2 separate regions of the Homo sapiens genome follow, and region 2 is linked to region 1. The links come from fine-mapping of genetic effects on gene expression. A gene starts in region 1. The other region holds a variant in brackets. All regions are shown on one strand. Distances are between the middles of the regions. Region 1 holds the start of ALDH4A1 (aldehyde dehydrogenase 4 family member A1). Region 2 overlaps ALDH4A1 (aldehyde dehydrogenase 4 family member A1).

What was found. PIP is the estimated chance that this variant, and not a neighbour inherited with it, causes the effect.
Region 2: its variant is the best candidate, but not a certain one, in a credible set for the expression of ALDH4A1 in lung (TOPMed, PIP 0.88).

What each region holds. Positions count from the first base shown.
Region 1 is chr1:18,899,797-18,904,178 of GRCh38, forward strand. It overlaps ALDH4A1 (aldehyde dehydrogenase 4 family member A1), which reads right to left and starts at 2,759. Exons shown (of 15, transcript NM_003748.4): 1 at 2,666-2,759. The coding sequence starts at 2,727. LOC124903866 (a long non-coding RNA gene) reads left to right here and starts at 2,317. Exons shown (of 2, transcript XR_007065519.1): 1 at 2,317-2,456; 2 at 3,014-3,575. RefSeq lists a silencer at 2,526-2,745 and enhancers at 2,826-3,055, 2,995-3,812.
Region 2 is chr1:18,872,478-18,876,859 of GRCh38, forward strand. ALDH4A1 (aldehyde dehydrogenase 4 family member A1) reads right to left here. Exons shown (of 15, transcript NM_003748.4): 12 at 3,838-3,990; 13 at 2,905-3,026; 14 at 1,986-2,104; 15 at 1-480. The coding sequence ends at 368. Among named protein-coding and RNA genes, the nearest start is that of MIR4695, 8.6 kb to the right of the region's middle. RefSeq lists enhancers at 2,818-3,112, 2,920-3,419 and a silencer at 2,915-3,004. The variant A/G (reference allele first, on the strand shown) is at 2,694.

The DNA of each region.
Region 1 (4,382 bases):
TTGTCCTGAGGCTGGCCGTGATAAATATCGATTGACAAGGAAGGGCTCACATGATTAGTTCATTCATTCCCTAAATGTTTGCCAAGGGCTTACCAGGTGCCAGACACAGTTCCAGGGCCTGGGAACATACTGTAAGGCAGACAAGTGTATAAAGGGAAAAAACAAGCTACAATAAAGTATGGGCAGATGAGCTTGTTTCTATGAGGTTTTTTTTAAAAGCATATCTATTCATGGAAAGTTAAAGGACATGAATCAAAATGTTAACAGTGGGTACCTCTGTGTGGTACAATTCCAGGTGATTTTTCTATTTTTTTGCCTTATCTGTACTTTTCACAGTTGACATGTATTAAACTAAAAGAAAACATGTATCAAGGGTATTTTTTAAAACTAGCAGAGATTCCTGGCACTCAAGGCAAAAAAGAAAACACTAAGAAGCATCTCCTATACCCGTTCCTCAAAAGCAGCGGTTTTTCTCAGGACTAGAGTTTTACACGTAGGACACTGAGGGATGTCACTGAAAATGCCCTGCGACTGTTTCTCCATAAATGCAGACATGGCATGTCACGGGTGTGCTCTAAATGTTCACTGAGTAAATGAACAAGTGATCAAACATCAAAGCTGTTCCTCTAGAGCACTGGCTCTCAACCGGAGGTGACTTTTGTCCCCCAGGTAACATCTGACAATGTCTGGGAACTTGTGTTTCCTGTCAGGGCCAGGGTTTTTTTCGTAATTGTCAGGGCCGGGGGTGCCCCTGACATGCAGCGGGTAAAGGCCAGAGACGCTGCTAAACATTCTACAGTGCACAGGACAGACTCCACAGCAACCAAAATGTAGCCCCAAATGCGAATAGTGGTGAGGTTGAGAAATCCTGTCTAGGGCATGCGGCCAGCTGCTGTATCAAAGGGGTAACTTGAGCCCAGGGAACCAGCTGCAAAATGCTCTTTCTCTTTCCCCTCTCAATTCAGGAGGCCTCATAATTCAGAGCATAAATCTGGATTTAGACCAAATGTAATTTCAGTCATATATCTCTGATGGCAGATCGTTTCCCATGATAATACAGGAATGAGACAGTACTTACCGGCTCGGTGTTAGGCCCATGGTGCTTGATTGCTTGATAATCATTATTGTTATCATGGGCTTATCTTTTAGAATATGGATTGCTTTCTACTAGATATTGGAGGGTTTTCCTATGCATTTCTCCCCTATTAAGCCGAAAACTCCTCAAAGGCCCCACCCCATGTAAATTCCCTGGGTACCCCTCATCTCTAGGGTGTTTGGCAGAGCACCAGCTCACAGTAGGCACTCAGTAAACACAGGACTCTATAAGCTCCATCTTCCTGAGTCTCAGAGTGCAGGGAAGGCCTGCAAACGGGATCACACAGGGAGTATGGCAAGTGTGGCCCCAGTCTCAGCCTAGAAGAGGAACCCCTCTGTCCCATGTCCTCTTCCTGCGCCCTTTCCTATCCCCTCTTCACCCACAGAGGACACACAGCAGTGTTGCAACTCACTTGTGCTCAGAGCACCACCATGCCATCCCTTGGGGGAAGGGAGAGGGCCACTGATTAACTCAGAAAGGGCACAGCTCATCAGGAAAGACACTGCCACTAACAGCCCCAGGGGTCAAGCAAACAAACCTCAAATGGGAGGGGGGGCTGATCCACAGGTGGGCAGCCCCACCAGACTAGGAACCCCTCTGGGGCAGGGTCTGTGTCCCACCTACCTCTCCAAACCTAGCTCCGAGCTGGAGGGGCTCTGAGAATATTTGTCATTGAGTGGGCAAGGGTCCAGGCACCTGGCTCCACAATGTCAGGTTTGCAAATCGGGATTTGAAGGGCAGGTCCACCCCTGAACTGCTCCTGGGTTTCTTCATTATTTGGAATAATGACCTGCCTCACAGGAGTGAGAAGTTTAAATAGAGGTGATAATGATGATGATCGTGGCAATAATAATAACCGGGCGCTGCCTTTGTGCTGGGCACTGTTCAGTGCACTCCCCATGTATTAACTCATTTAATCCTCATAAGACACCTGCCAATTGCCCGGCCAGCATTTGGTTCATTATAAGCACTCTATAAATATGATTATTCCACCTACAAGAAGAAAGGAATCCTTTTTTCTGTCCAACATTTAACTTGAAAAAAAAAAAAAAAAACGGGCGGCGGGGTGTGTGGGGAGCGGAAAAGAGAGAGGTAGAAATCCTGGTAGAAGGAGAGGACTCGGGGAATCCGGGGCGGGATGGGGACACTGAACGTGAGACGAGGGTGGGGAAGTGAGATGTGTGGTGTGCTAAAAATAGAAGGGCCCCTCAGGGGAAGCCAGCAAATTGCGAAGATCCAGTATTAGGAGTGAGGTGAGTGACTACAGAGGCTACTTTCCGAGCGTGGGAACCGGCAGGGCCACCGAGGCACCCTACTCGGTCGCAGGATTCGGGAAGAGGGGTCCCCTCGCTAAAGGAAGGTGACTACCTGAGGGAGGAGGCTAAGGGATCTCAGTGGGAGAAAGGCCTGGGTGGGGGTCGGAGGGGAGCCCCTGAGGAACCCGGCGTTGACCGAGGCAGCTTGGGGGTCCGGCAGGGAGGGAGTGCGGCGCGGGGGACGCCCAGTGACTCTCAGGCTCCCGGGCCCCAGGCGCGCGCTCGGGCCGCCCCGGGCCCCGTGCTCACTCACCCGGCCCCGGTCCAGGGGCGGGACAGCAGGGCGCGGCGGAGCGCGGGCGCCGGCAGCAGCATCTCGGGTTAGAAGCGGGGCTGTTCGCTGGATCGTCCGCCCGGGCGCGGCGAGAATGCACAACCCCGTCCAGAGCGCACCACCTCGATCCTCGGGGGGAAACGGATCACCCCGGCTGTCCTCCGAGCTCGGGATCAGCCAAAGTCCCACTATATTTAGCTTCGGCTAATAAAAAATATTTCTAGTGCCATAACGGGGGCATTACACAACACAGGACAAGGGAACCCGAAAGCGAAGTCCTGAAATGCATGCGTTTTCCCCTCCTCTCTTTATGGTATGACCCGGGAGAGAGGGCGTGAACTCTGTCGACCAGTCAGAGTGACACACCAAAGCTTCTGAACCAATCAGCGGGGCGGTCCTGCGGCAGCCTTCCAAAGCGGAGCAGAGAGGGGCTGAATAGAGCCAATGAGATAACCGAAATGGGACACGTGCTGAAGCGGGGCAGAAGGACTCGCTGCGTCCGGCCCTCTGGCGTGCGCCCCGGGTTCGATGGGAGTCCGACTGACTTCTCTCGGGCTGCCGGTGGCTTGTACAAGGCTGGAAACCTGTCCGCTACCAGACTCCTCGACCCCGCAGGGCCACAGCGCGGCCAGCCCCCTGCTTCTTCCCGGGGGCTGCGGCCCCTGGAATGAGCCTGCCTTCCAGCTTCTTGGCCAGGACCCAGCCGCTCTCCACCTACCCTCCAGGCGCGGGGCCGGCCAGCTTCTTAGCTTCCTTGCAGATTACGATCAATGCAAGATAAAACCTGAGCTGGCCAACGCTTAGCTTTTCATTTAAAGCCTTTGGCCGCAAAACCAGTTGTTCCTGAGCCTTTTACCCCCAAGTAAAAATTTCAGCTTTCTTTGCAAAATGTTGTGTGCTTGGTAAACACTAGAATGCTATTTAAAACTTGGATTCTGAAGTCTTCTCTGATGACGAGGTCTCAGGGACCCAATCTATTCCTAAAGTAATGTTACGTTTCCTTACTCTCTGTTCTAATTTGTTTATATTTCTTCCAGCAGCATGAACCGCGCACCTGCTTAGGAGTCAGTTCCCATGCTGATTTTGGTTCCTCAAGCAGGGCACTAGGCAGACTACATATCCTTTCCGGGCCTCAGTTTCCTCATCTGTAAAACGGAAGTAATAGTACCCAACTCACAAAGCCCCCGTGATCTTAAGCCACTTATTTTTCTCCAGATTACACCATTTGAGGTACTTTGGGAGAATGTAAACATTTAAATGAAGAGTAGGAGAGGGAGATTACCTAAATGCCAAGTATTAGGAATGGCAAAAAGCAAATTGGAATTGGTGGCGGCTATTTGTCTTCACCTTTGGAGAAAACCCTAGACAGGTGGGCTCAGTTCACATTTGGGCAATGTTGCCCTGAACATGCCCATTGACAAGAAAAACTAGAACATTGGTTACTGTCAAATCCAGAGCCTGGGAAGGTGACCTCCTGTGGGCACGTTGGAGAGCCTGGAAAAATGGGGGCTTTGTGGTTAAAAGGACATCAGTTCCAAACCAGGCCAAGCCAGTTACTGAGCCTGTGATGTCTCATGTCCTCTCTTCCCCTTCAGTAAAATGTGTGTAATGATTCCTGCTTTGTCATCTTCCAAAGCTTTTATTGTGAGCTACAAATGTAACAGGTGATATGAAATCCCCTATTTTATGGCTAATT
Region 2 (4,382 bases), 27 kb before region 1:
GCCAAGGGGCCCAGAATGGCCTCCTTTTCCCCAAAGGATCCCAAGAGCTGCTCCATCTCCTTTCCCCAGGTCCCTGAGCCACTGGGCCCAGTGGAGGGCAGAGGGAGAACCTGCCAGGCACCAGGGTCATACCTCCCACATGGCCGATGGGATAAGGGGTAGTGGCCATGTTCCTCCCCAGCACGATCTCAAACCAGAGCCTGAGGCATGGGAGAGGCCAGAATACAGTGGTAAGAAGGGAGTCAAGCCCGGATTATAGAAAGGCAGCTGTGCATGAAGAAGGGGTGGAGGGGCTGGAGTGGGGTCTGTGCAGTGAGGTCGGCCACCTGGACGGACAGACAGCTGGACGGTGGAGCCCGAGAGGGGCTCACTGCATGTACGCGTAGCTCCAGTCCCCCAGGGGCTTATGTGTCTCCTTGATGACCTGCGGCGACGTCCAGCGCAGGATGTAGTGTGGGCCCCCTGGCTTGTCATTGGTTCCTGCGGAAAAGACACTTCTGTTTTTCTCTGAAAAGATGCAACAGCCTGGGCAGAAGGGGAAGGGAGGAGATGATGGAATCAACGGACCAGCAGTGTAGCGGCCAGCAGCGAGCCTGCTGCCAAGCTTGGGGCATGCAGAAGAGCCAGAGGGATGGACAGGAGACCCTGCCTCCAGTCTCCAGTCTGTGGGGAGCCTCCATTGTTCTCTCCAGTCGCACCCAGCCTTGCATCCTTGCTGGGATGCGAGGATGTCTAAGAGGCAGGGTGTGGCGTGGAGAGAACACTAGACTGAGAGGCAGGGACTTGGCATGGTCCTGGGGTGCCATAAGAGGTACATATCTAGCCTTCACCCCTGGTTCCTAGCCAGAATTCCTAAAGCTCTTGGAATTTCCAGAGTGATGGGGGTGAAAGGAGTGTCTTCCGTTATTCATAACAAGCCCCTTCTAATCACACATGAGTTTATGCTAATGAGGGCTCTTGCAGGATGGCACTGATTGGCAAAGGAACCAACCCTGTGATTAGAGGCTTGGAACCTTCAGCCCCAGGGAGGGCAGAGGGGCTGGAGGTTGAGTCGACCCCAATGGCCAATGATTGAATCAATCGTGCCTGTGTAATGCAGCCTCCATAAAAACCTAAAAGGACAGGGTCGGGAGAGCTTCCAGATTGGTGAACACGTCCACATGCCAAGGGGGTGGCACAGCCCGAACTCCAGGGGGACGGCGGTGCCCCTGCCGGGGACCCTTCCAGTCTTTGCCCTATGTGTCTGCGCATCTGGCTGTTCATCTGTATCCTTTAAAATACCCTCTGCAATACATGGGTAATAGTAAGCACGCTTCCCCTCGGTTCCGTGAGCTGTTCTAACAACGTATCAAAACTCAAGAGGGCATCATGGGAGCTTCTAATGCGTCGCAAAGTCAGACAAGGTGTGGGTAACCTGGGGTCCCAGTACTTGTGATTGGCATCTGAAGTTGGGGGGTCAGTCTTACGGGACTGAGTTCTTAACCTGTGGGGTCTGCACTAACCCCAGGCAGTGAGCATCAAGTTAAACTGTAGGACACCCAGCCAGCATCCATCAAGAGCTGGAGAACTGGTCGGTGTGGGAAACCCCAGCACGCCTGGGTTCAGCCCTGGCTCTGCCACTCAGGAGCAGTCACCTTTGGCAAGCCATTGCTCCTCCTGAGCCTCAGTTCCCCATTGTGAAGTAGAGGTTGTTGGACTTAAGGGACACTGGCTATGGTGCAGAAAGTGCGGCTGCTGGAGCCAAAATTACAATCCCACCAGGGTCATGTGGCCTTGAGCCTCAGTTTCCTCCTCTGTAAAATGGGAAGAATAGTCCCTTTGCTCACGAGTTTGCTGAAAGGACCCTGAGCTAGTGCACTTGCTTGGCCCACAATAAGTGCTCAGTAAATGGTATCCTTCCTATTACTCTGAAGCCCCTCGAGACGTAACATCTAGGGTCTCCCACCAGGAACTCAGCTCCCCTGTGGGAAGGGGGACCCACTCACCAGAGGCTCGGGCCCCCCCAAAGGGCTGCTGGCCCACTATCGAGCCAGTGGACTTGTCGTTGATGTAGAAGTTGCCGGCAGCATTCCTCAGCACCTTTGTGGCCTCCTGCACGACGTCCCTACAAAGCAGAGCAGTGGTGACAGAGCAACCAGCTCATCTCCCCTCCAGCCCCAGCTCCAGCCTCAACACCCCTGCTCCAGCCCACACTGGCTTTCCAGGTTCAACAGGAGGCCGAGTCAGGGATGAGGGATGCTGCCAGCTGTTGGCTGTGGGCCTTCGGTCAGGTTACCCAGTCTCTGAGCCCAGCTTCCTCCTCTGGGGAGGGGCTTGGCACGCCTCGTTACAGGGCTACTGCGAAGTTGAAGGGAGTGGCCTGTCCTGGTCCAATGTTCCTGTCCCTCAGGAGCAGCGGAAACTCCAGCTCCCAGGCCCACACCCTTCCTCCCTCTCCAAGCTCACCTCCACTTTCTCATAGAGGCAGACATGGGGGCAACCAGTGCCACGGAGGAAAGAAGAGGCGAAGCCTCAAGTTTAGCCTCATGTGACCCAGGTTCGAATCCTGCCTCTGCAGCCCCTGGCCTGCCCTGCTTTGTAGCATGGGACAATCACCTCACTCAGTGGGGCAACACCAGATCCCGCAGAGCCAGTCGAAGACACCAATTCCTAGCCCTGCCCCTAGAGGTTCAGATCCACTGGTCCCCAGTGGC[A/G]CCCTGGCACCGGCACCACCAGTACCGGCAACAAAGAGCCTGCTGCTGTGGGCCCATGTGGCGAGCCCTGGCTGCCTGTCTGGGCTGAGGGGAGGGGACAGAGAGAAGGTAGGGGCAGCATTATTACTGGGAACCACGTCCAGGAGGTGGGGATGGGGACACGGACAGGACACCCGGAGCACAGCACCAGGGCTGCGGCCTGGCCACTCACTTATCCTGGGAGAACACTGCCCCCGTGAGGCCATAGCTGGTGGTGCTGTCAACCAGCTGCAGCGTCTCCTTGTACTTGTCATCCGGGTAGACGTACACAGACAGTACAGGCCCGAAGATCTCCTAGGAGAGAGGCCCCGGCGTCAGACCCTCCACGGGACCAGGGACCAGGGCCCTGAGCCCTCCCAGTGCCCCTGCTCTGGCTCACCCTCTCCCCAGTCCCTGGGCCTCAGTTTACACTTCAGTGTCTGCAAGAAGGGTCAGGTGTCGCCTCCTCCTGGGTTCCCTCCAGGACAGCAACGTGCCCAGCTCCCTGTCCTGTCCATCCCACCACAAGCCGGCAAAAGATGCAAACATTTTCTGGCTCTCCCTGCCAAACCCACACCCGGAGAACTAAGGGTCCAGGTCCCAGAGGCTTCCAGCAGCAGCTGGCATGAGAGTTGCCCAGAGATACCATTCCCTCCAGAAGGGTTCATGGTTCCCTCTGCCACCAAGGGGCTGGGGGGAAGATCTTCTCAGGCACACTCCAGCCCTGCACTACCAACTTGGGCAAGTGCCTTGACCTCAGTTTCTCATCTGTAAAATGGGAACAGTAACACCCACGTCATCTCAGCCAAGTGCTCAGCCACAGCTGGCCCCACAGTAAAAGTCTATCAGTGTCAGCCATTATGATGGCTGCAGTGGACGTGGTTGCTGAGGGCACTGGAAATGCTCAGACCCCAGCCAGGGTCAAGGACACAGCCCCGGATTTGGAGTTAGGCAGCCTGAGCTCAAAACCTGGCTCTACTCTCTCCCGGTCGGAGGCATTCCCTTTTAGGGTCTCCCTTTAGGGCCTCATCTGTGAAATGGGAGAATGTCTCCAGGAGAACTGTGTGTGTGCTGTGCTCCGGTGGGATTGTCCTCCTCTGGACCCCAGGCTGCCCACCCCAGTCACCTCCTTCATGATGGGCTCCTGAGGGTCCTTGCTCTCCACGATGCAGGGCTCCACAAAGTAGCCCACGGAGTCATCACACTTGCCCCCGGCCAGGATGGTGAGGCTGGGTGAGGAGCGTGCGTGCTCCAGCCACTTCTTGATACGGGCAAAGGACTGGGGTGGGCAGGGAGGAGGGAGGTCTAAGAGGCTGGGAAGGCATCCCTGCGGCAGCCCCCACAACACACTCACCCCGAAACACCTGCACCTGAAGGGCCCAACTCCTGAAACAGGGGCAGGGGTAGGGGACGCCAAGGGCAAAAGCCAGGGTCTGGCTGAGCCACAGCAGAGACAAGGACAGACATGAACACTGTGTGTGTGTGTGTGTGTACACACACAAGTGTACGTGTGTTAGTACTACAGGTGCACTCGCATATAAACACAGACACACATCAATCAATGCATATATAGGCATATGCATGGTCACATGTCTAAGCATGTAGGGATCTGCATGCCTTCTCCATGTACATGCGTGTGGGTGGACTTATCGACATATGCGTGTGTGTGCT